7 linked regions of the Homo sapiens genome follow. The protein of the gene in region 5 interacts with the protein of the main gene of each other region in a pairwise test. Each region holds a gene or a part of one and is shown on either strand. Other genes may lie near its edges.

Evidence for each region.
Region 1: the proteins of COPS4 (region 5) and NUP58 interact in binary tests that used the Homo sapiens proteins (3 or more experiments, as listed by UniProt).
Region 2: the proteins of COPS4 (region 5) and IKBKB interact in a two-hybrid assay, tested with the Homo sapiens proteins (one study listed by BioGRID).
Region 3: the proteins of COPS4 (region 5) and MBIP interact in a two-hybrid assay, tested with the Homo sapiens proteins (one large-scale study listed by BioGRID and IntAct).
Region 4: the proteins of COPS4 (region 5) and PCDHB12 interact in binary tests that used the Homo sapiens proteins (3 or more experiments, as listed by UniProt).
Region 6: the proteins of COPS4 (region 5) and PEX14 interact in binary tests that used the Homo sapiens proteins (3 or more experiments, as listed by UniProt).
Region 7: the proteins of COPS4 (region 5) and HEMGN interact in a two-hybrid assay, tested with the Homo sapiens proteins (one study listed by BioGRID).

Annotation. Positions count from the first base shown.
Region 1 is NC_000013.11:25,304,625-25,308,124, reverse strand, and holds part of NUP58 (nucleoporin p58/p45), read right to left. Parts: intron 522-3,500; exon of another isoform or gene 485-521; intron 320-484; coding exon 177-319; intron 1-176. UniProt on the Homo sapiens protein: Component of the nuclear pore complex, a complex required for the trafficking across the nuclear membrane.
Region 2 is NC_000008.11:42,305,802-42,309,301, reverse strand, and holds part of IKBKB (inhibitor of nuclear factor kappa-B kinase subunit beta), read right to left. Parts: intron 2,960-3,500; coding exon 2,870-2,959; intron 402-2,869; coding exon 277-401; intron 1-276.
Region 3 is NC_000014.9:36,298,064-36,300,850, forward strand, and holds the end of MBIP (MAP3K12-binding inhibitory protein 1), read right to left. Parts: intron 2,761-2,787; coding exon 2,722-2,760; intron 1,128-2,721; coding exon 1,020-1,127; 3' UTR 501-1,019; downstream 1-500. UniProt on the Homo sapiens protein: Inhibits the MAP3K12 activity to induce the activation of the JNK/SAPK pathway. Component of the ATAC complex, a complex with histone acetyltransferase activity on histones H3 and H4.
Region 4 is NC_000005.10:141,207,465-141,211,518, reverse strand, and holds the start of PCDHB12 (protocadherin beta-12 precursor), read right to left. Parts: upstream 2,801-4,054; 5' UTR 2,612-2,800; coding exon 224-2,611; 3' UTR 1-223. UniProt on the Homo sapiens protein: Potential calcium-dependent cell-adhesion protein. May be involved in the establishment and maintenance of specific neuronal connections in the brain.
Region 5 is NC_000004.12:83,045,183-83,048,682, reverse strand, and holds part of COPS4 (COP9 signalosome complex subunit 4), read right to left. Parts: intron 3,058-3,500; coding exon 2,978-3,057; intron 1-2,977. UniProt on the Homo sapiens protein: Component of the COP9 signalosome complex (CSN), a complex involved in various cellular and developmental processes.
Region 6 is NC_000001.11:10,628,104-10,631,258, reverse strand, and holds the end of PEX14 (peroxisomal membrane protein PEX14), read right to left. Parts: intron 1,729-3,155; coding exon 1,272-1,728; 3' UTR 501-1,271; downstream 1-500. UniProt on the Homo sapiens protein: Component of the PEX13-PEX14 docking complex, a translocon channel that specifically mediates the import of peroxisomal cargo proteins bound to PEX5 receptor.
Region 7 is NC_000009.12:97,931,673-97,935,172, forward strand, and holds part of HEMGN (hemogen), read right to left. Parts: intron 1-3,500. UniProt on the Homo sapiens protein: Regulates the proliferation and differentiation of hematopoietic cells. Overexpression block the TPA-induced megakaryocytic differentiation in the K562 cell model. May also prevent cell apoptosis through the activation of the nuclear factor-kappa B (NF-kB).

The sequences.
Region 1 (3,500 bases), on a different chromosome or scaffold from region 5:
GATTGGGCCTATCACTAGCCCTTAATTCCAATTCCTTGCATTTCTTTTCATCTTAGCATTTACCATTTTTTAAGGTCTACTACCAGTGATGATCCTTGTAAAGAGAGATACAGGACACAATTTAGGAAAGAATATCCCAAGCCTACTCTCTGACAATGTGATCAGATCCTCCTCACCTGTATTTGTTCCTCCTAGAGTGAACCCAGTGGCAGGTTTAGATCCAAAGAGCCCGGTTCCAAAACCACTTGAAGGAGCAGATGTAGTTGCTGGAGTTGAAGTACTTCCAAGATTTCCAAAATTGAGCCCCACAGAAGGGTTGCTTATTTAAAGAAACAAAAACAAAACAAAAATCACATGCACAAAAGGAGGTCTACTAGAGCCAATATTTACTTAAGAAAAATAAAAATTAACTCTTCAAGATAATTTCATTCACATAACATATCTAATACATTGTCATAGGACCCAAAAAGAAAAATAAATTTACCTTTAACCCATCAAGTTCAAATATGTTTCTGTTCTTCCTTAAAAATAAATCCACATGTAAAAGTAGTCTTAAAAAAAAATAAATCCACATGTAAAAGTAGTCTTAAAAAATACAATACCAGATTTCAGGCTGGGTGTGGTGGCTCATGCCTGTAATTCCAGCACTTTGGGAGGCCGAGGCAGGTGGATCACAAGGTCAGGAGTTCGAGACCAGCCTGACCAACAGGGTGAAACCTCGTCTCTTCCAAAAATACAAAAATTAGCCAGGTGTGGTGGTGGCACACGCCTGTAATTCCAGCTACTCAGGAGGCTGAGGCAGGAGAATTGCTTGAACCCGGGAGGCAGGTCGCAGTCAGCTGAGATAGTGTCACTGCACTCCAGTTTGAGTGACAGAGCGAGACTCCCTCTCAAAAAAAAAAAAAAAAAAAAATACAATACCAGATTTCAAGAAAAGCAGTCTACAGCAATAAGGATTCCAGATCTCAAGGTAATCATAAGTAGGGATCACAATTATTCTGCTTTCACCAATGTTTGAAACCTAGCATATTTTTAAATGGTCATAGAAAAGTTATTTTAAATTATCTTCACTAGCTTTCCATTGCTACATTACCACATTCATGGGGCAATGTGGTGTTGGGGAGAGTATAGACTTAGGTATTTTACCACCAAAAAAAGCATAGAAAAACTAGTGGGGACATTTCCTGGCAAAAGTTAAACGCAAAGCAAAATCACCCTGTCTCAGGATCATGTATTCATTAACAGAAACTCTTCAGAGCACAGTGCAAAGCTTAAAAAAAGAACAGCTGATAAAAACAAGTGAAAGTGAACAAACTTCACAACTTTTCAACTACTCTTATCAAGACTCAGGGGTTCAGATTTGCTATGAAAAGGTGGGAAGACAAACTGTGAAAATAAGCAAATTTTGACAAGTTGACACTTCCAAAATTATGTAGGAGATTTAAGGGAGACTATACAGCATAATGGCAAATTCTCTTTATCCTACATATTTATCTTTATTATTTCCTTTGCTGCCCTTCCATAAAGAATAATCACCATGGGAGAACCCAATGTCATTTTTAAAGTCTCAAAAGCCCTGGCAGCAGTAGTGTGGCTGGGTTCCAGTACCAATCCCCCCATGTTCTGGTACTTGTGTGCCATTACTTAACCTTTCTGAGCCTCTATTTCCTCATCTGCAAAACAGGAATTAACAGTACCCACTTAGCAGATTTTTTTTTTTTTTTTTTTTTTGAGACGGAGTCTCACTCTGTTGCCCAGGCTGGAGTGCAGTGGCACTCCGCAAGCTCCGGCTCCCGGGTTCACCCCATTCTCCTACCTCAGCCTCCGGAGTAGCTCAGACTATAGGTGCCTGCCACCACACCCAGCTAATTTTTTGTATTTTTACTAGAGACAGGGTTTCACCATGTTAGCCAGGATGGTCTCAATCTCCTGACCTCGTGATCCACCTGCCTCGGCCTCCCAAAGTGCTGGGATTACAGGCGTGAGCCACCGCACCCGGCCAGCAGAATTTTTTTTTAAATATAAGGGTTCAGAGCACAGGATGAATTAACTTCAATAAATGTTGTTATGACTGTTATCATTAGGGATACTTATAAATTTAACTAAACATATTATGTACAAGGCGTTATGCCAGGAATAGCAAGGGAGCAGAAAGATGTCCCCTAGTCAAGGAACATGCCGTTTACCAGGGGGATAAACAACACAAATAACTGTACTCCAAGCCAGAAGAGTTCTCCAAGTTACTTGGGTCCGGGTGTCTTCAATTTCATAATCAGCTTAAGAAGCCACTCAAATTTTTGCAAACACTGGGAGACAAGGAGGAAAAGAAATACTCAAGCAGGAGATAATTCAAGCAGTAGAAATGTACACACCTTCAGTAAGTTTAGAATTACTATAAGTAAGATTATAATCAAGTACCAAACGATGGCAAAGAGATACTGCAGAAGTTTGAGGCAAAGAGCTAATCACTGTGAGGGGAATGGAGGTGGAGGAGCTTATTAAGGGTAGAACTTGAGATGTGCCATCCATACTGAGTAGGTAAAAGGAGAAGTACTGATTTTTAAAATGTGTTTGTGTGCACCTTGGGCATATGAAGGCGAGGCAGGAGACAAAGCAGGGCGGTAAGCTCTCGCTAACAATTAAAACACAGATCTTGACCAGGCCGGGTGGCTCACACCTGTAATCCCAGCACTTTGGGAGGTTGAGGTAGGCAGACTGCTTGAGCCCAGAAGCTTGAGCCCAGCCTGGGCCACATGGTGAAACTCTCTCTACCGAAAAAACAACAACAAAAAACTTCCAAAAAACAAAAATTAGCCAGGCGTGCCAATGCACACCTGAATGTAATCCCAGCTACTCAGGAAGCTGAGGTGGAAAGATCACTTTAGCCCAGGAGGTGGAGGTTGTAGCGGGCTGAGATTGCGCCACTGCATTCCAGCCTGGGAGACAGGGCAAGGCCCTGTCTCAAAAAAAAAAAAAAAAAAAAAAAAAAAAAAACCCCACAGATCTTTAAACATTTAGTCTTAATTTAAAAGGTATTTTTAACAACATATTGCTACAATCAAAACTAAGTGAGATCACACACACAGAAACCTAAGTGAGCGCTACAAGCAAAAGAATATAGTATGTAATGGCTATATCCAGACAACATAGGTAGTACAACCATAAAAGGGGCATATATGCCAAAACATTTAGCTTAGCTGGTAGTAGTCTGATCGTATTGTTATTTTGACACTGTTGTGTGTATAATGTGGAGTAGGGTAAATGAGTATTTGGGGGATACTAAAACATTACTGCCGGCTGGGTGTGGTGGCTCACGCCTGTAATCCCAGCACCTTGGGATGCCAAGGTGGATGGATCACCTGAAGTCAGGAGTTTGAGACCAGCCTGGCCAACATGGTGAAACCCCATCTCTACTAAAAATACCAAAAATAAAAATAAAAAATTTAGCCGGGTGTGGTGGCGTGCCTGTAATCCCAGCTATTTGGGAGGCTGAGGCAGGA
Region 2 (3,500 bases), on a different chromosome or scaffold from region 5:
CTGAACACAGAGCAGATGACACTGACACAGCATTGTATTTAAAGATGTGAAGGCTCAGAATCCACATGAAGACTTAACAGCTACTCTATCTATTAACAGGTCCTTGGAGCACAGACCACTCCCCTACTCGTGCTAGGTCCTGACAGGCCTTCCTCTCGGAAGAGAAACAACACAGATCTCCCAGGCCCGGTGATGGGGCGCCAGGGAAACAGGGTACGTGAAGAGAAAGGAACAGACAGGCTCCCTCCTCCATCCAGGTGCCCCGGGCCCACTCACCACTGCACGGGCTGCCAGTTGGGGAGGAAGGGCCGGAAGCCCGTGATGCACTCAAAGGCCAGGGTGCCGAAGCTCCAGTAGTCGACGGTCACTGTGTACTTCTGCTGCTCCAGTAGCTCTGGGGCCTGCAGCAACAGGAGGGGGTACACCTGAGCTGCTCCTCTCTGGGGGGACCACGGCAGGAGGGGGCGGCCAGCCCATCTGCTTTCACCCCTGGCTTCATCCTAGAGGGCACTGGCACATGCATGCAGGGCGAGGAGGGCACCCCAGGCATGTTTAGCGGGTATATCATGCTACCATTTCTAAGACCTTTCTATGTCCCACTCACTCCAGTAGGTACTGATGGAGGGGCTAAAGATTCAGGGCCAGAGTACATCACACACCCATCGCTAGGCTTTAACTTCTCTCCTTTAAAACTGAGGGTTGCAGGCTGGACGCAGTGGCTCACACGTGTAATCCCAGCACTTTGGGAGGCCGAGGTAGGCGCATTACTTGAGGTCAGGAGTTTGAGACCAGCCTGGCCAACATGGTGAAACCCCGTCTCTACTAAAAATACAAAAATTAGCTGGGCATGGTGGTGTGCACCTTTAGTCCCAGCTATTCAGGAGGCTGAGGCACAAGAATCGCTTGAACCTGGGAAGTGGAGGTTGCAGTGAGCCAAGATCATGCCACTGCACTCCAGCCTGGGCAACAGAGTGAGACTCTGTCTAAAAAAAAAAAAGAAAGAAAGAAAGAAAAAAAAGGAAAAAAAAAAAAAGGGTTGCAGCATTTCAGGCGCTTATTGAAAACTAGCTTAAGGCAGGACACAGTCGTGGGCACTGTGTAGAAATGGGAAGAGAGGCTACAAATGTTAAAGGAAAATGATGCCAGGCTGTCCACACCAAATACACGCATTAAGTGCTGGTTGAACCCCTGAACCAGGTACCATGTGGTTGCAGAAAGGGCCAGGATATTTAGAAACAGGCAGGGAAAGTGTGATGCATGGCTGCTGCTGAGGCAGAGAGCGCTGGGGTGACCGAAGAAGGGGCGGCAGCACGGGGTGCTGGGGGTGCAGACTGGGCTTAGCAGGTGGGTGGAGACAGAAATGACTGGGGCAAGCAAAAGCACAGAGACAGGGTGGTGCATGGTCTGGTTGGAAATGTGAAGCTTAAGGAAGGGCCCGGGAGACCAAACCAAGAGAAGACATTCCGGGATGGGTAGGTCAACCTCTATGTCTGGTTATGGGCAGACGTTTTAGCTCATGTGAGTACATGACTTGACTCAGCTCCTGGTTAGAGCATGGGGTCCCCCTTGCTCGACTGCTGCTGAGCTGAGGAGGACTCCAGAAGGATCTACCAAATCACATGCCATATGGACACAGGCGCCTGAATCACAGCCCTCTGTGAGACCCACTCTGAAAGCCGCAGACTCCTTGAGTCACTCCCAATTGTGGTGGCTACTGCCATCATCAAGCAACCTATGACAAGTCTTGCTGGGCATTTGTGCTAAGCCCTCCTGGAATCTAATTGCCCTCTACATCTTCACTGCCCCTACCTCACCCACTCTTCCCTCCTGTTCAGTGTGATTCCTTCTCCACACAGTGTCAGGAGTGGGCTTTCCAAAGAGTTGCTCCTTCTCCCACTTAAAACCCATCAATCTCTGCAGAGGTTTTAAGATAAAGTCTAGAACTTTAGCCCAGCCCTGAAGGCCCTTCATAATCTGTGCTCTACCTTGTTCTCAGCTTCAACTCAAGACTCTCTTTCCCTTTTGTGCTCGGTTCCAGCCACACCTGCAGGTCTTCCTGTGTGTGATCCCTTTGCACGGAATTCCCCCTGCCGTCCCCCACCTCCAGCCCTTTTCACCTCCTTACCCTTCAAGTCCCAGACCAGGCTGAGGCCACCCAATATATATTCTTGCAACACCCTGCACTCTTGCTTTGTAACACTCACCACAACTGTAATTTCTTAGTTATCTGTGTAAGCATCACAGTAATGCTTGCTTTCCTGCTAAACCCTAAGCTCTGAAGGCCGAAAAGGGCTTGTCTTTTTTCCCCACTGCATCACCAGCCCTGAGCACAGTGCCTGACACAGACTACACTCCATCAATATGCTTGAATGAATGAGTGACTCAAACAGAAACCTAATATTCAGACCAAATAACGTAAACAAAGGGTGGGGAGCTCAGAGCTCTGACCCCTACTCAGTGGCCCCTGAAATACCTCATGGAAAGTGTGGCCTCGGCCAGGCTCAGTGGCTCCTGCCTGTAGTCCTAGCTGCTCAGGAGGCTGAGGTGGGAGGACCGCTCAAGACCAGCATGGATCTGTTTAAAACCCTTTCCTTTCAGAGAAGACACTGAAGCACAGAGAGGCTAGGGGATGGTGCAAGGCGCATGAGCAGAGCCCTCCGGACATCAGAGAAGACGACCACATCCCTCCACAGGGCATCTGGTGGCAAAAAATGCTGACTCGACCAGGTTATGGGTGTGACCTCATGCATCTCCAAAACATTCAGAGAGCCGGTGGGACTCAGGTGCTGGGAGCAAGGCAGGACAGGAGCCCCACAAATGCAGCAGCAGGGAGGAGCTGACAGGCAAACAGGCAAGGCCCACTTCTTACCAGGTACTGCAGGGTCCCCACGAATGATGTGCAAAGACTGCCCTGATCCAGCTCCTTGGCATATCCTAGGTCAATAATTTTGTGTATTAACTAAAACAAAAGGAAGGAGAAAGCTGAGGGTTATAAGAACACAATGTCCTTCTACGAGGATTCTGACTGCCTGGTGTTAGAGCAGAGGTATTTCTGAATTCCCAGGTACTATTAGATCCCAAACTCCTAAGAGCCACCAGATACACAAAAGAATGCCCTCGACACGGTAGATTCAGGGCTAAAAGAAAAGGCATATTGTAAAAATGCTAGGCACGTGTCCTCCCACACTCTGCCACGCATCATCAGAGGGAAGCTGAATGAACAGAACAGGCACCAGCCCTCAAGACAGCTAAACCCAGACTTGAAACAGGAAGGACCGGGCCAGCCTCTTCTCAGTAAATGCCCTCAGTTCTCAAATCTGAGCACCACTGACAGGAGTGAGGGTGAACTGGAACAAGGGCGAGCCCTGTGGTAGTCACAGGCCAGGCCTAGGTGCTAAGGGCAGCTGTATGGGAAGGGATTAGGTGATCTAAGAACTCATTCACTGTATTCCACTCAGCTGAGCCTGTGCTCACCACCCCAGCTGAACACATAGAGTGGG
Region 3 (2,787 bases), on a different chromosome or scaffold from region 5:
CTGTCACCCAGGCTGGAATACAGTGCATCACTGCAGCCTTGACCTTCTGGGGTCAAGTGATCCTCCTACCTCAGCCTCCCAAAGTGCTGAGATTACAGGAGTGAACCACCAAACAATTATTGACCTGAACAACTGCTCCATGAAAGAATTTCCACATAACTGTAGCTGCATCTTTCAAATGTTTAATTTATAACTGTGGTAATGTATGTACTGCCTAATGTAACTGGGGTATTGTAAAGGGGAGGCTCTCAAAAGAGAGGTACTATAATTTCTTTGTAATATCCTAATTGCTGTCCAAAAACAGACCTGGTTTTATAATATTAGCTAACATCTACTGAGCAATTCCCTTGGGACAGACAGTTTCAAACATGCAAGATCTCACCTCTTCTTCGTAACAATCAATAAGGTAGTCTCTACTATTGTCATTCCCATTTCACAGACTGGGAAATAAGAACAAAGACAGATTAAGTAAATTGATCAAAGTCACACCGTCAAAGGGATAAAGCTGGATCTATTGTTTATTTACATGAATACTGACATCTTAAAGATTAAGAAAAACAAGTTCATACACATGCATTTAAAATTCATTTCAGTCAATAAATTTTTGTTGAATGCTTATTATATGCAAAGTACTGATTTAAACTAATAAACTGGTTAACATCAATGTTACAAATATAAAGTCCTTTTAAAGTATCAATATCAAAATAAATCTTCCTTCCTGTGGTCCACAAAAGAAAAAAGATGTACCAGCACTTGTAAATTAAGTTTTTCAATTTCCAAAATACCTCCTTTAAAACAGAAGGGAATAAATTCCAACAATGCTATTTTCAATGCATTCATTATTTCAAAACTTACTGGAATATTTGAAGATTACTTGCTGCAAGCTGGACTCATGTGAAAATAAACCTTGACTTCACAGAGAAGTCTACATTGATAAATATATATCCGTTGAATTAATAACAGTGTAAGTTACACATATGTATACAAAAAAGTAAAATGACAAGGATGAGAGGAGTTTTTCATGGAAGGTGGTGGGTTGCCATGGATTCTGCTTCTCTTGATTTTCTGAGGAGGGCTTGTTTGAGGGCACTAATTTTCTCATCAAGTTCAGCCAGTGAATAGTTCTGCTGTAAACAATAACGACACAAATTGCTGAATAAGATTCTGAAGTATCTTAATGCAGATAAAGTGCCAAATGAACTATAAATATTTAAAATATTCAAAAGCATGATCAAATGGTTTTTTTCCCTCATGAGAATAATCTTAAAACTGAGCAACTATATATGTTGACTATATCATAAATTTAAAGGCATAAAATAACAAGGCTTAAATATTTCTTTTTCTCTTTTCTAATGACTAAGCTCTCCTGAACCTTTTATACTTAGAAAGAATAAGTTAAAAAAAAAAAAAAAGCCTGATTATTAGACACTGGAGCCTATTTGAAGATGGGAGGAGGGAGAGGACTGAAAAACTGCCTATTGGGTATTATGCTGATTGCCTGGGTGACAAAATTATCTGTACACCAAACCCCCATGACATGCAATTTACCCATGTAACAAAGCTGAAAAACCCTTGAGCTTAAGTAAAAGTTGGAAAGAAGAAGAAAAATGCTAATTATACTACTACCAGGAGAAAAAAATCATTTGAGACATCAACTATCCCTTTTAATGGAAAACTTTCTATGTTGATTACTAAAGTTAACCTGAAGTGGAAAATAGTGAAGAAAATACTTCTTTTACCTTCCAATAAAAATTGGATTTATTCAAGTCTACCTATGTGAACACCCTCACTTATATATTAATATTTCTAATTTAGACACAAGTATTATGTAGTGGCTATTAGGGGGTAAAGAGAAGGGGAAATTGGGACTGAGTGCTAATAGATACAGGGTTTTGGGGGGGCAGTGATGGAAATGTTCTAGACTTAGTGGTGATGGTTGCACAACATAGTGAATATACTAATAGCCACTTTAAAATGATGAATTTTATGTTATGTGAATTGTATTTTTAAAGCAGCAACGAAGTGTTACAGTTTACTACATAAGAGAATAACTTTTAAAAACCTGATTATTCTCATAATCAATAGTAAAAAAAGTTAGTTAACTTTAAAAATAGCTGCTTAAAATACTTAGAAATTCTCTCTTGAGGGATCAACTATAATAATTTACTTCGGGAAAAAATAGCTGCTATCAAAAAACTTACTCAGAATTTTACAAGAAAAAAATATGCTACTCTTAAAAATCAGAAAGTTTTCTCCAACTTTAAATTCACATTACCACTGTTAAATTCTAGCAAAGCCTTACTATTTAAGGTTCAACTAATTAGTAAAGTAGCACTTTAGACAGGGCTGGCTGAAGTCAAACTCTGCCAAACACCCTTTTTGATCTAGGTGCTGCTAATTAGAAGTGTTCACAAAAGGAAGGGATGGGGGGAGACTGAAATTACTTGAGCACTTACTATTTTTAAGCACTTTGTGAATGACACATCCTTGTACTACTAAAAGCAGGACAAAGGTTTTATTTATTTAACCTATCTGAGTCATTCCATGCCCTTAAAATAATTTTTCTATTCAACTGTATTAGTTTATACTGCCCTTTTCTTCAGTCCTAAATTTTACCAGGGTATGACCTAAAAGCAACCATAGTAGAAACTTTTATTAATAAGAAAGGTATAAAACTAATCAAACTATTTCAGAAACCAAAATGAAAATGCAGTAACTTACTTGAGGTGGTTGAACTTTTCTTCTTTTTCCAGAAAAGCTCTAGATTAAAAAAAAAAAGGTAATGTT
Region 4 (4,054 bases), on a different chromosome or scaffold from region 5:
ATTAAGCATAATTGTTTGACATAAACCATTACACATGCACATTTCCTGCTTTGTGAAGTGTTCTTGGTACTAAATCTGTATCCTTTTCTATGTAAAGAAATTTATTTCTTGACTTGAAGAGTATGTATTTGAAGTGATCAAAAATACTACTTTACAGGCACCTCACGATAAGTTCCTAATTATAAATGTATTCATAAACACAGGTTTTATTTTTCATTCTTTATCAGAAACCCAAATTATTCTGAAATGGGGGATTTTCTTCGACTTCACTACCTGTGCTCTGGGGTAGGAAGTTGGGGATAATTGGTTTCAGAAATTTGAACTTATTTGACCTGGAGCCTCCAGTCACACACACCTCATAGTGGTAGCTCTGGGACAGGGTCCCGGTGCCACTCACGTCCACCAGATGTCCTGGAAAGGGGCCCTCAGGCACCGAGCAGCGACCGACCGGGGCCGCCCTGCTCCTCCTGCACAGCCGCACCGCCACGAACAGGAGCACCGAGAAGAGGAAGAGCGACGACACTGAGGCCAACGCCACCACCAGGTAGACAGTGAGCGAGTCGGCCTGGGCCTGGGCCGGGGCCGCCTCCGGGAGAGGCAGGTAGGGCTGGGAGAAGCCGTCCACCAGGAGCACGTGCAGCGTGGCGGTGGCCGAGCGCGGAGGCTCGCCATTGTCCTTGACCAGCACCACCAGCCTGTGCTTGGCCGCGTCGCGCTCGCTCAGCAGCCTGGCGGTGCGCACCTCGCCATTGTGCGCCCACACGCCGAATAGCCCGGGCTCCGTGGCCTTGAGCAGCTGGTACGACAGCCAGGCGTTCTGGCCCGAGTCACCGTCCACCGCCACCACCTTGGTCACCAGGTAGCCCGGCTCGGCCGCCCAGGGCACCAGCTCGGTGCAGGGCGCGGAGCCGTTCTGCAGCGGGTACAGCACGAAGGGCGAGTTGTCGTTGGCGTCCAGCACCAGCACGCGCACCAGCGCCTCGCTGCTCAAAGCCGGGGAGCCGTGGTCTGTGGCGCCCACGCGGAACTGGAACCCCTGCAGGGCCTCGTAGTCCAGCGACCTGAGGGCAAACAGGTGGCCGTTGTCCGCGTTGATGGAGACCAGGGAGGCGAGGGGCAGGTGCGGGTCCTGGGACGGCAGCAGCGAGTAGTTGACCTGGGCGTTGGTGCCCGAGTCTCTGTCTGTGGCGCTGATGCTGCCGATGTGCAGGGCGGGGCTGTTGTTCTCGCGGACGAACAGGGCGTAGGAAGTTTGGGTGAAGGCGGGGGCGTTGTCATTGACGTCGGAGACCAGCACGGTTATGTTGTGCTCGGTTTTTAGCCTGGGGGTCCCCAAGTCGGTGACGGTGATGGTGATGTTGTACTCGGCTCTGCTCTCTCTGTCCAGCGGTCTCTCTGTTTCCAAAGTGTAGTAATTATTTACCGAAGATTTTAGCACGAATGGGATGTCCTCCGGGATAGAACAAACCATCTTTCCGTTGTCCCCAGAGTCTCTGTCTCGTATCCTGAAAACCATAACCACAGTCTCTGGAGTGTTTTCTGGGATTGGACTGGTAATTGATGACACAGTGATTTCAGGAGCGTTGTCGTTTACATCCATCACCTGAATTCTGACTGTAGATTTTCCAAAAAGTCCTCCCCCATCTGTGGCTTGAATGATTATTGAGTATGACTCAATTGCTTCAAAATCCAAAGGTGCTGTTAAAGTAATGTCACCAGACTTTTGATTAATTTCAAATGTCTTGCGAATATCTTCTGAGGCATGGGAAAAGGTATAGGATAGTTCACTGTTTGTTCCAGAGTCTAAATCCCAGGCTGAGACGGTCACAACCAGGGAGCCAAGGATGCTATTCTCCAGAATCTTCACCTCATAAAAAGCCTGCTCAAACTCAGGGGAGTTGTCATTAATATCTACAACCACCACCCTGACCAAGGCAGTTCCAGACCTGGGAGGGGACCCGCCATCCAGAGCAGTGAGGATGAAACTGAGCTCCGGGCGCTCTTCATAATCCAGCGCCTTGTCCAGAACTAACTCAGGGTATTTCCTATTGTCTGGATTGACTCTTATTTTAACGTGGAAATGAGAGTTCGGATTTATTGTGTAGCTTTTTACAGCATTGATTCCTACATCTAAATCCTTTGCACTTTCAAGCAAGAACACAGCACCAACAGGACTGTTCTCTGGGATTTCTAAGAGCATTTCTTTTTCCAAGAAGACGGGAGAGTGATCATTTATATCCCTGACCTGGAGCTCAATTTGTAAAAACTGCGTGGGGTTTTTCATTAACACTTGGAAATACAGCACACAAGGCTCATTGGAGCCACAGAGCTCCTCCCTGTCTAGCATTTCTCTCAGGAGCAAATCCCCAGTGTTTGTGTCCAGCTGCAAACACTCTTTGTTATCATTAGAAACCACCCGAGCCCCCCGCGAAGACAGCTCACTCACCTCGAGTCCCAGGGTCTTTGCCAAATTTCCTACAAAGCTCCCGCTCTGCAATTCCTCCATCACCAAAAAGTTCCCAGTTTCAGAGCCCGCCTGAGACATTCCCAGCAAAACAAAGAAAAGCAGGACTTGCCTTATCTGCAGAGTGCCTGCCCCTCCGTTTTCCATAGCTTCTTTTCCAAAACCCCAAAATCTTCTTGCAGAATTGCCTCAGCGCCTCTTCGCAGTTGTGGGAAACGTGCCTCTGATCTGTCTACCAAATCCTCGGAAGCCTGAAGATTTTAACCTTGTTGAATGGCTTCTAGGTTCTCCCTTAAAGGATTGTTCTTTCTGTCTTCCCAGTTCTCCGCGTGTACTGGATAACAGGGTCTACAACATCCTCCAGGGTAATTTTTTTCTTGATATTATCCTGCAGCGCCACCACGCGTCTCCACAGATTTTCACAGTTTGATGAACACTACCTAAATTTTATTTACATAAATGTCCTCCAGAAGCAAATAAATATTGCGTTTAAATAATTCCTTCTGTTGAAGTAATTAAAAATATATTTTATCTTCCATAATAATCGTTTTATATTCTTTATAGTTTGTGATGATGATTTTGTTTTAAAGCATTTATTCAGTGTCTTTCCCCACTCTTCTCACAACCAAATGTGTTCAGTTGTGGTAAACACAGATACAAGATGTGATCCCTGGCTCCCAGGAATTCATAGTGTTTCTGAGACAATTGTAAGCCTGAAACAAGCAGGGTATAAGTGATTGTTAAGCTGAATGAAATTCTATTACTACTTGGCTTTCCTTACGTGATAAGGTAAAGGAAAGGTCATCTCAGAAATCCTTTCTGAAGTTATGAAACTGGATTAACCATGAGATGAGGCATATATAGGTCAACACAACAGCATAAAAAGGCACTTCTGTAGATTTCCTTAATAGCAATGAATTGTGAACAGGCAGAAAATGAAGCAAGAGATTGGGGTGGAACATGTTATGTAAACCCATCATTTAGTTCCAGTTTTTCATAATTTACAAAAAAATTCATAAGTACACAAGCATGAGCAAGTTAGTTTAATTTAAAGCAGACTCTTATTCCTAAAGCTGACTTGCCTTAGGTTCCCAAAATTTATTGTAGCCACAACTGTAGCTATCTGTTTTCTCTTTCAGCCCAGGAAGAGAAAGTAAGAGTCTATCCCTAAACATAGAACAAAAACCTAACTTTCACTCTAATTAGACCAAGTAAGATCATGTGTCTGCCACTGAAGCAATCATTGTTTCAAGAGGTATAGAATTATAGTTGGAGATTTTAGTCCTAGAATCTAAAGACCTGTCTCTGGCCATTACTGTGTTTTAATCCTGTCTGGGACCACCTCTTAAGCTTGGGAAGGTTTCAGTCCTAGCCAAAGTACCTCATTGGTACAAAATGAGGGAGACTGTTTGCAACAGATGCTAAGGGCTCATCAGTGATATTCACTATAGAAAGTCTTAAAGTGCACTAAGAATGGATGGGAGAAGAATCCAACAAGTCTGCATTTTAAAATGTTAAATTCAATTAATATTCTTAAAAATGTAAGCTGGATACATGGTTGAAATAGTAATTGGTACAGAAGGGTAAAAC
Region 5 (3,500 bases):
GCAACAGAGCTAGACTCTGTCTCAAAATTAATTAATTCATTAATTAATTAAAAAATCTTAAAAAACAGTAAAAATAACACAACTTTTCTAAGAAACAGAAATAATTGAAAAAAGTTTTAAAAGTTGATAATTTTATCTCATTTTTCTACAAAGTGAAGGCACAAAAACACCTATATTTTTATTTATGTGCTTATATCCTACCTTGTTCCAAAAAGGAGTTAAAAAAGAAAACAGTAAAATAATTTTCATGAAATTTAAATAAAGCAAGTGCTGCCAGTACAGTTATTGCCACTTATACTTTCCCAATAAAAACAATAAATAAGAACTTCAGTGAGCACTAGATGTATTGACATTATTTATAAACATTTACGAGGTATTATTTTATGTGATTAAGCTCTGGAGCCACACTGCTTCTACCACTACTGATTATATGACTTCAGACAAGAAACTTAACTTCTCTATGCTTCTCTGTGCTTCTGTTTCCTCATGTGTAACATCTATTTCATAAGGTTGTTATGAAGCTTAAATGCAATAATATACACAAAGCACTTTAAACAATACCTGGTACATAGCACTCAACAAATGTTACTATTATAACTATCATTTTAAATGCATCATTCTTGTAAACTATTGCTTAGATAAATTATTCAAGTCTTTTTTATTATTATTATTTTTTTTTTTTGAGACTGAGTCTCGCTCTGTCGCCCAGGCTGGAGTGCAGTGGCACCATCTTGGCTCACTGCAAGCTCCACCTCCCGGGTTCATGCCATTCTCCTGCCTCAGCCTCCTGAGTAGCTGGGACTACAGGCACCCGCCACCACGCCCAGCTGATTTTTTTGTATTTTTAGTAGAGATAGGGTTTCACCGTGTTAGCCAAAATGGTCTTGATCTCCTGACCTCGTGATCCGCCCATCTCGGTCTCCCAAAGTGCTGGGACTACAGGCGTAAGCCATGGCCCCGGCCAATTATTCAAGTCTTAAAGCAGCAGTTAATATGAAAATAAGTGATTCAAAAACTGTTCAGTTGATGTAAATGATTTTAACAGTAGACTGCTTTTCCTGGTGGTTTACTGGATTCAAAGCTTATACAAAGATCAAAAAATATATATATATATGTTTTTTAATTGTTTTTTTGAGACAATCTTACTGCTGCCCAGGCTGGAGCGCAGTGATGCAACCTCAGCTCACTTCAGTCTCGACCACCGGGGCTCAAGCAGTCTTCCCACCTCAGCGTCCCAATAGCTGGGACTACAGGCATGCATCACCACGCCAGGCTAATTTTCGTATTTTTTTGTAGAGACGAGATTTCTCCACATTGCCCAGGCTGGTTTTGAACTCCTGAGCTCAAGTGATCCCTTGGCTGGGTGCCATGACTCATACCTGTAATCGCAAAGTGTTGGGATTACAGGCATGAGCCACCGTGCCCAGCCAAGATCAAAGTTATAAAAAGCATTATTCTTCTGCTACTACAGTGCAAAGTTCTTAATAAACCACTCCTAACAGTTTTTTGGAAACCATTGCTAGTTTATCTCACACCGGAGGCCATGATTTTTTAAGGCAGTAACCTTTTAAGTTTTAAGGCAGTAACTTTTTAAGGCAGTATTTTTTTAAGGCAGTTGTAATTAATTAATCACATATTAATTGGAATTCATTATTGGGTAATACAGGATGTGACTGAGAAAACAGTTTCATTACAAGTGTCATTAGGCATTTAAGTTACCATACAAGCTGGTATTACTCAGGGAAATATAAGCAAGTAAGAGCAGTGTATCAGAAAACCTAGTTTCTGATCTGGGCTCTGCCAGCTAAATGTCCTTGAAAAAAAGTTACTCAATCCTGAGACTTGTCTTACAATATATTATACAGGGATACCTGTACCTATACGTTCTAGTCACAGGTTATTAAAAGGAGCCTATGTGACAGGTAATGTGTGTGAGAACACACTGTAAAGCACTATCAGATATCATTAATGATGTGAACTCACTATAAAATTCCATGTGAACTCACTATAAAATTCCTTAGGATAATGGCCTACAGACATATGCATGTTGCTGCACAGGACATGATTGTATTCTTTTTAATGTGTGCGTAGTATTTTATGGTGTATATGTGGCACATATTTCTATCCAATTTATTGATTCACACATAAGTTAAGTCCATGCCTTCCTTATTGTGAATAGCAATATGGCGAATATACAAGTGCATGTGGGGTTTCTTTTTGTGGAATTTTTAATTTTCTTTTGGATATATACTCAGTAATGGAATTGCTGGTTGAATGGTACTTCTGCTTTAAATTCTTTGAATAATCTCCAAACTGCTTTTCACAGTGGCTGAACTAATTTACATTCTCACCAACAGTGTATAAGCATTTCATTTTCTCTGAAGTCTAACCAGAATTTGTTATTTTTTTACTTTTTAATAGTAGCCATTCTGACTAATATTAGATGGCATCCCACATTGATTTGCATTTCTCTGATGATTAGTGATGTTGAACATTAAGAAAACAACCCCATTAAAACATTGACAAGGGACATAAGCAGACACTTCTCAAAGTACAGTACTGTACTACCCTGTAGTACAGTAATGTACTATAGAGTACATTTTAGGTACATTAGATGTACTACAGAGTACATTTTAAAGAGGAAAAGGAGGCACAGAGAGGTTAAATAATTGACCCAAGATCACACAGCTCATAAAATAGCATACCAGGATTTGAATCCAAACTATTCTCTTTACTATTATGCTATATTGTCCCTTATCAGCTATTATAACAATAAACATACAAAACTTTAATTAGGATTGTAATTCTGAAGATAATTCACTGAAAATTAATCAAGTTGTAAACAGTTTAAATTCTAAAATCAATCAATCTCAATGCATATTTAATATTGATAATTTGATACAAAACAAGGCTTGAGAGAACTTTAAAGTCCTAGCTCAGTAATACAAGGCAAGCATGAAATTTCCATTTCACTTACTTGCTTCCACAAAAGCTTTCAAAGCTTCTAGTTGTTCTGCTCCAGATAACTGAATGGCTTTTTCCAGGATCTGACGATACCTACAACAATACCAAATGAAAATAATGTTCTGAGGGTACTATATTTTCTAATGCAAACTTTGATGTGTATTTATTCATTTCTACATACCTTGGTTTCTTTCATAGTACTATAGTTTGTGGTTTTCTTTATAGTATACCACAGATTTTTTTTTAAGTTTCTAGTCTATCACAAGAGATATTAAATCTATAATTATATAAGGTACCACTTCATCTAGTTTTCAGTATAGTATACCAGAATTTTTTAAGTTTTCAAGCTCATCACAAGAAAGAATGAATCTATAATTCTGTTACTGAATCTAAGGTGTCACTTTTTCTTGAAGGTTTTATTTTTGAATTTAAACTACAAAGTCAATTTCCTTTCAAATGCCTTAAAAGATAAGCTATATTTCCTTCAACTGTGCAATACATAGACACACAAAAACATTATTTGAGGTGACCTGAAT
Region 6 (3,155 bases), on a different chromosome or scaffold from region 5:
AGGGCTTCCTATTTCCGAAGCCCTTGTGTCCACACAGGCACATGGACATCACGGCGCCTGCGGCCCACGAGCCTGGTCCTGACACTTGGGGGCTGCAGGGAATAGGAGCGCCCCTCAAGGAGCCCATGGCTCTGCTCTTCTGGTTTTAGCCAAATGCTCTGTGAAGGGGAAAGGGAGACTGGGAGGAAAAGAGCCAGGGGAGACAGGGAGCCAGAGAGGACGCCACACTCCCCTCCCCGGGAAGCATTCGTCCATTTAAGGAAGAGCTCCTCACTCCACATGAGGTCTATATACAGTCACACGAGGTCCCTGATCCTCCTGCGGTCAGCAAAGTGTCGCCCTCCGGCAGCCACTGGACCTGAACAAGGCCTCTGCTTCTGGCTCAGCAGCGGCGGAAGCTGCCCATGGGCCCTCACCCACACTTCACCAGCTGGAGGCTGCGCTGAGACGAACCCCCGGGCCCAGGGTGCCATGAGCAGACAGGGAGCCACAGGCAGAAATTAAATAGTGGCAACTGGTATTTATTACAATTATATACAGTCCTATCTTCCGTTCTGAGGTCTATACATGATCACACAAATGAACATGTGTTTCCTGGGGGGAAGGACAGAGCTGGCTGTTGGTCAGGAAGGCCCTGCTGCCTGGCTCCTCCTCCGGAGTGAGCCCCCATCTCGCCATGGGATTAGCTGAACCATTACACGGCAAGCGGGGGCATCGGAAGCGCAGCGTGGTTTCATTTGTCTGGGAGGACGACGGGGCATGAGTGGGGTTGGGGCTGGGGACAGGCACCTGACGGGTCCAGGGCCGGGCCCAGGGAGGGAGGGGGATGGCAGACACCAGAGGGACCGCAGCTCCTCCTCCACTGAGGAGTCGGGAGGCAGTAGGGACGCTAGCTCTGGCCATGCGTGGTGTCACGGTAGTCAAGACACTCAGCAAACACACCCTGGGCAAGGCGTCTGTCCGGGAGAGGGGGCTGGGGAGGGGCTTGGGCCCCGAGGCTTCGCTGCCTTCAGCCTGACTTGAGATCAAAGCCAAAGGCAGCTGGGCCTGGGGCTGGGGCTGGGGCTGGGGCTGGCGGCCAGGCGAGAGGAGGCCAGGTGGACAGAAGTGTGACTCCCCACACTGCCACCAGGCCGCAGTGCAGCTGAGGACAGCTCTGCCCCCTACCTGGGCTCCAAGCTGCCCTCCCAGGGCCAGAGAGGGAGGCAGGGTATGGCCACGCACGGGCACACTAGATGCCATCCTCAGGGCTGGAGGCAGCAGGCGCAGCCCTAGTCCCGCTCACTCTCGTTGCTGGCGCCCTCGGGCCGCCGCAGCTTCTCCACCTGCTCGTTGATCTGCCCATCCCCGCCCCGGCGGTCCTCCCTCTGCACCCCCAGGCAGTCCTCCTCGTCCACATGGCTCACATCATCATCCTCCTCATCCTCCTCGTCCTCCTTGTCCTCCCTCTTCTCCTCCTCGCCTTGCACCTCCATCCGCACCTGGCCCTTGACGTCCACCACCCCCTCGCCTTCCTCCTGGGGGCCCAGCAAGTGGTAGGTGACCGTGGAGCCCTCGGGGCTGTGGCCCTCCTTCCCAGGCGAGGACGACGTGGACTCGTTGCTGACAGGTGAGATGTCGCTGCTGCTGTGGTGGTTCACGGCCGCAGGGCTGGAGGGTGACGGTGACTTGACTGGGATCTGCCAGGAGGGGATCTTCGGGGCTGATGGGGATGGAGGGAACTGCCTCCTAGAGGGAGAAGAAGGGGAGGAGGTTGGTGGCGGCATTCAGGACGCCCCCCTTCGAAGGGCCACGCCTTCCCTGACCCGCAAGGGCTCGGCGATGGTGAGCTGCTCCCCCAGGGACACTGGGCAAGGGACAGGATGGAGCCCTTCCACCCCTCCTTTCAGGAGCAAAGATCCTACAGCTGAGATAGATGCCAAGCGGGTCCTGTGCCCCCACAGACAGCCCAGGGTCCCCCCGGGCCCCCACCCTGGGCAAGGCCCATCTGCCTGGGCAGCTGCTGGAAGCCAAGTGGGGCCTGCCTGCCATGCGGGAGCCTGCTTCCTTCTGATCCTCAGCACCATCCCTGCCTCCAACCCAGTGGCCAGGAGAGAGACAGGTTGGTGAGGAGTCCAAAAGGGCTATGACTGGGGACTCCAGACACCTGAGCCACAGTCCTCATTTGTCTATGGCCTGAGCAAAAGGTGGAGGCAGGGAGCCCTGGCCACTGGCAGGGGGTCAGACACATCAGAACCAAAAGGGCGGTGGTTATGCCCTTTGCTAGAAAACTTCTGAGCTCAACACTTTCAACGCAGAAGAGGCAGCTCTCCCTTCTGCTCCGTACTCCGTTCCTGGGCCAGCAGCCAGCCCAAACCAAAGCCAATTCCAGGAGGGACCTGGGAGGTCAGGTCCACTTGGCAACGGCTCAGAGACAGAGCTCTCCAACAGGCAGGCCCATCTCTGCCTGAGCCAAGAGGACAAAGCCCTGCCCGCAGGGCTGTCCCCCAGCAGGGGCCTTAGACACAACTCTCCCACCACAGACCCCACTTGAGTGGGGCACACACCACGGCCTGCTTTATTCACCAGCATCCTAAACGCTAACAAGAAATTCCATGTGCAGTTTTCTTGGCCCCCACGGTCACCCGATGGCCTGGCCTCCATCCCCAGCCTCCAAGGCACTGGTCTCGGTTAGGGAAAATGGAGGCTGTCTCCTAATGACAATGCTCTGGCCTCTGCCAGCGCCACATCTCTTTCCAGGACATGTTCTTTTCCTCAGGGAAAACCGGGAAGTTGGGTGGCTTGGAAAATGGGGTCTTCTGGCTGGAGCCGCAAGACCCCTCTGCACCCCATCCTGGACCCTAGTGAAAAGCCCACCTGCACCCTCCCACTCACCCAGCTCCCAACAAATCCAGCCCAGCAGGGAAACAAGGACACCCCATGCAAGGCCCACTAGGGCATCAGCCCAGGAGGATGGCCCACAGTTGCGGCTCCCAGGACAGAGTGGCTCCTGGACACTGGACTTTCAGTTTTAAAAAACCAGAACAGTCCAGGCACAGTGGCTCACACCTGTAATCCCAGCACTTTGGGAGGCCATGGGCAGATGACCTGAGGTCGGGAATTCAAGACCAGCCTGGCCAACATAGCAAAATCCCACCTCTACTAAAAATACAAAA
Region 7 (3,500 bases), on a different chromosome or scaffold from region 5:
CAGCTCCTCGTCTGTGCAGCCTGCAGGTGGATGCTGTATATGGCTTGATTATCAAATACATTATTTTGTGTAAAGAATTCTAAGTTGCTACAGTATATATCAAATGAGGTATACTGTAAGGGGTCAAAAGCTGCAAAAGCACTTCTTGAAGTTAAGAAGTCAGGTAGATAGGCATGAGTGGCCATATTATACCTATTCCTAATTAATAAATTAAAGATCTAGAAGATGAAAGGATATGCATGGTAATTGCAGCCAGTGACAAATTGTTAGGCACTGCAAATACAACCAAATACAGATGGCTAATACAGATGGGCTGGGGGCTGGGGGCTGGGGGAAGTACTATAAATAAGCATTTCATCATTTTTCTAAATCTACTGAAATTCTGTTTCATGCTACCCGCTCCATGGAGCCTTCTCTAAGAGACTACAGGACTAAAATGCTCTCCCAGCTTAGCACTCCTATAGGACTTATTGGGTGTACCATGCTAAAGGCAAGGAATGTAGGCTGCCTCATACTGTAGTTATTTCTGAAGAAACTGTATTTCTTTTAGTAAACATTTTAGACAGTCTTTGGAGATAAAAACCAGTGTTTTTTACATCTTTATAGTGCCCATCGTTCCTTGCATATTTAAAAAAAGTATACCCTGTTCCATTTTTTGTGTATGTTTGAAATTTCCGTTGTAAAAAAGTGTTTTTAAAAGATTACCTCACCAAACACAGTTTGAAGTCAATACCAAAAAAGTATATATGTTCACTTCTAATATGAGGCTATAGAAAAAAAGAAAAAAAGGTATAGATGTAACAGAGCAGTCTAAAATAATATTGAAAATTATATTTAAAAAAGGAAATCTAGGCCGGGTGCGTTGGCTCACGCCTGTAATCCCAGCACTCTGGGAGGCCGAGGCTGGTGGATCACGAGATCAGGAGTTCAAGACCAGCCTGGCCAACATAGTGAAACCCCGTCTCTACTAAAAATACAAAAATTAGCCAGGCATGGTGGTGCGCGTCTGTAATCCCAGCTACTTGGGAGGCTGAGGCAAGAGAATCGCTTGAACCCAGGAGATGGAGGTTGCAGTGAGCTGAGATTGTGCCACTGCACTCCAGCCTGGGTGACAGAATGAGACTCTGTCTCAAAAAAAAAAAAAAAAAGGAAATCTAAAGATGATGGTTATGGCACCTCAGCATTTTGAACTATTACTACAAGTAACCAAGGTGACAAGATAAATCATAAAATTCTGATAAATTTTTTGAAAAAGATATTAATAGTAATCCAAGTTCCTTAGGAAACACATATTTTTTCCTAGATATTAAATCCTAAAGAAGTTGTTATTTAAATCTCTGTATGAGGAGATCTGAGTAATGTAATAGTCCATGTCTTCCCAGGTAGTTTTTCAAAAAATGCAAAAAATACCTATGTGGCCTAAACTTTAGTCTGTACTCTCTCATGGTTGTGGGCAAGTCACTTAACCTCTACATGCCTTGGTTTCCTTGTAAGTGAAATGAGGTAAATAATATCGGCCCAATTTCATGTGGTGGTTATAAGAATTATATATAATAACTTACATGAATGAATTATTCAAATATAAATTAGGACTCATATGAATACAGGAAACACTTATAGTGCTTGTATATGTCAGGCACCGTTTAAATAATTTAGTTATTTTGTTATCTCATATAATCTTCACATCAGTCTATGAAGTAGGTAGTTATTATTTTCATTTTGCAAATGACAAAACTGAAACACAGAGATGTTGAGTAACTTGCCCAACACTTGTATTTGATAATCAAGCCATATACATTATCCACCTGCAGGCTGCACAGATAAGGAGCCGTGCCTGGATTGCAGGTCTAGAAACCCTGAGTATGAGTTTACTCAGGGGTAGTGAAGTAATACACACAGACTAAATGCAAAGAGACTAGTATATAAACCAGAGTGCCAATCTATTCGTTTATAATGAGAATTATTTATTTTCCATAATATTTCCAAGGGCTCTGGCTACCAAGTAGGGGAGCCAGGCTACGAATCTAGTCATTCTGGCTTTAACAGCCAGGCTCATAACCATGCACTCTGCTGCCTCTCTCTGAAACTAATAAAGTTTCACTGTATGGTGTGTTGTAGTGAGAAAAGAGGGCACAGGCCTTAGCATTATAGAGATGTATCACCAGAGCAAGTCCAGCCAGCTGCCAAGAGGCTCACTAAGGTGTTATCCATTTGAGTGAATACCCTCAGCCCAGCAAGCCCAGAAACCTGATTCTGTTAGCACACTGAGACTACCTCCATTTATCAGGGGCAGAGCTCATCAAGCAGATTTAAGGAGACTGACATATAAACCTAAAGACCAATTTTTAAATGAACAGACATACAAAGTCACATAGTAGAAAATACCTGGACTGGCTGGGCACAGTGGCTCACGCCTGTAATCCCAGCACTTTGGGAGGCCAAGGTGGGCGAATCACTTGAAGCCAGGAGTTCCAGACCAGCCTGGCCATCATGGCGAAACCCCGTCTCTACTAAAAAATACAAAAACTAGCTGGGCGTGGTGGCCAGTGCCTGTATTCCCAGCTACTTGGGAGCTGAGGCAGGAGAGTCACTTGAACCTGGGAGGCAGAGGTTGCAGTGAGCCGAGATTGTGCCACTGCACTCCAGCCTGGGCAGCAGAGTGAGACTCTGTCTCAAAACGAGTGAATGAATGAATGAATGAGAGAAAGAGAAAAAAGAAAAGGAGAGGAGAGGGGAGGAGAGAGGAGGGGATGGGGGAGAGGAGGGGGAGGGGAGGGGAGGGGGGAGGGGAGGGGAGGAGAATACCTGGGTTCTGGGCTCCCAAACAAATGCACCGTCTCTGTAGATAAGTACTTGGGAAGCCAAGTAATGATTGGAAGATTGCTTAGTGGTATGGAATTTGGGAGCTAATTGGATAATCTTCAATAGACCTGCCACAGGACCCTAATACAAATATTTCTACTGTAAAATGATACACGTGTTCCTAAAAAAACCTCACTTTCTGCAAAATCATCCTCTATAAAGTTACAGTGGTTATGGAGGTGGGGCAAATAGGCTTGGGACAAATGATTCAAAACCCTTGCAACATTTTAACACTAACTAAAACAATAATTGGTACCAGGAGAGAGAACTTGGATGGTCTAGACAAGCAGTTTACTGTGGCTGGAGGCTGCCTCAGGGGATAGTAAATGCAAATATAGTGTAATTGCAGGCTTGAAGCTGCTGAGACCTGAGCTCTGAGCCAGCGGGGTTGCCGTTAAGTTGGGCACAGGAGGGAAGTGCAAGCTGCCACTTGATGGAGAGCTGCGCAAGGCTGGTGTTGTGCCTCTCTGAGGAGGGAACCCTGGATGCTGGCTGAAAAGAATCCTGCTTATACAACAGCCAAGCTGAAGGCTTTTTCTTTCCAGCTGAAAGCTTTAATTCTCTTCCCACTATTCTGCTTTCTTCTGACTAGGAAAAAATCATGAACCAACACAACCCCCACATTATACTGACATCAT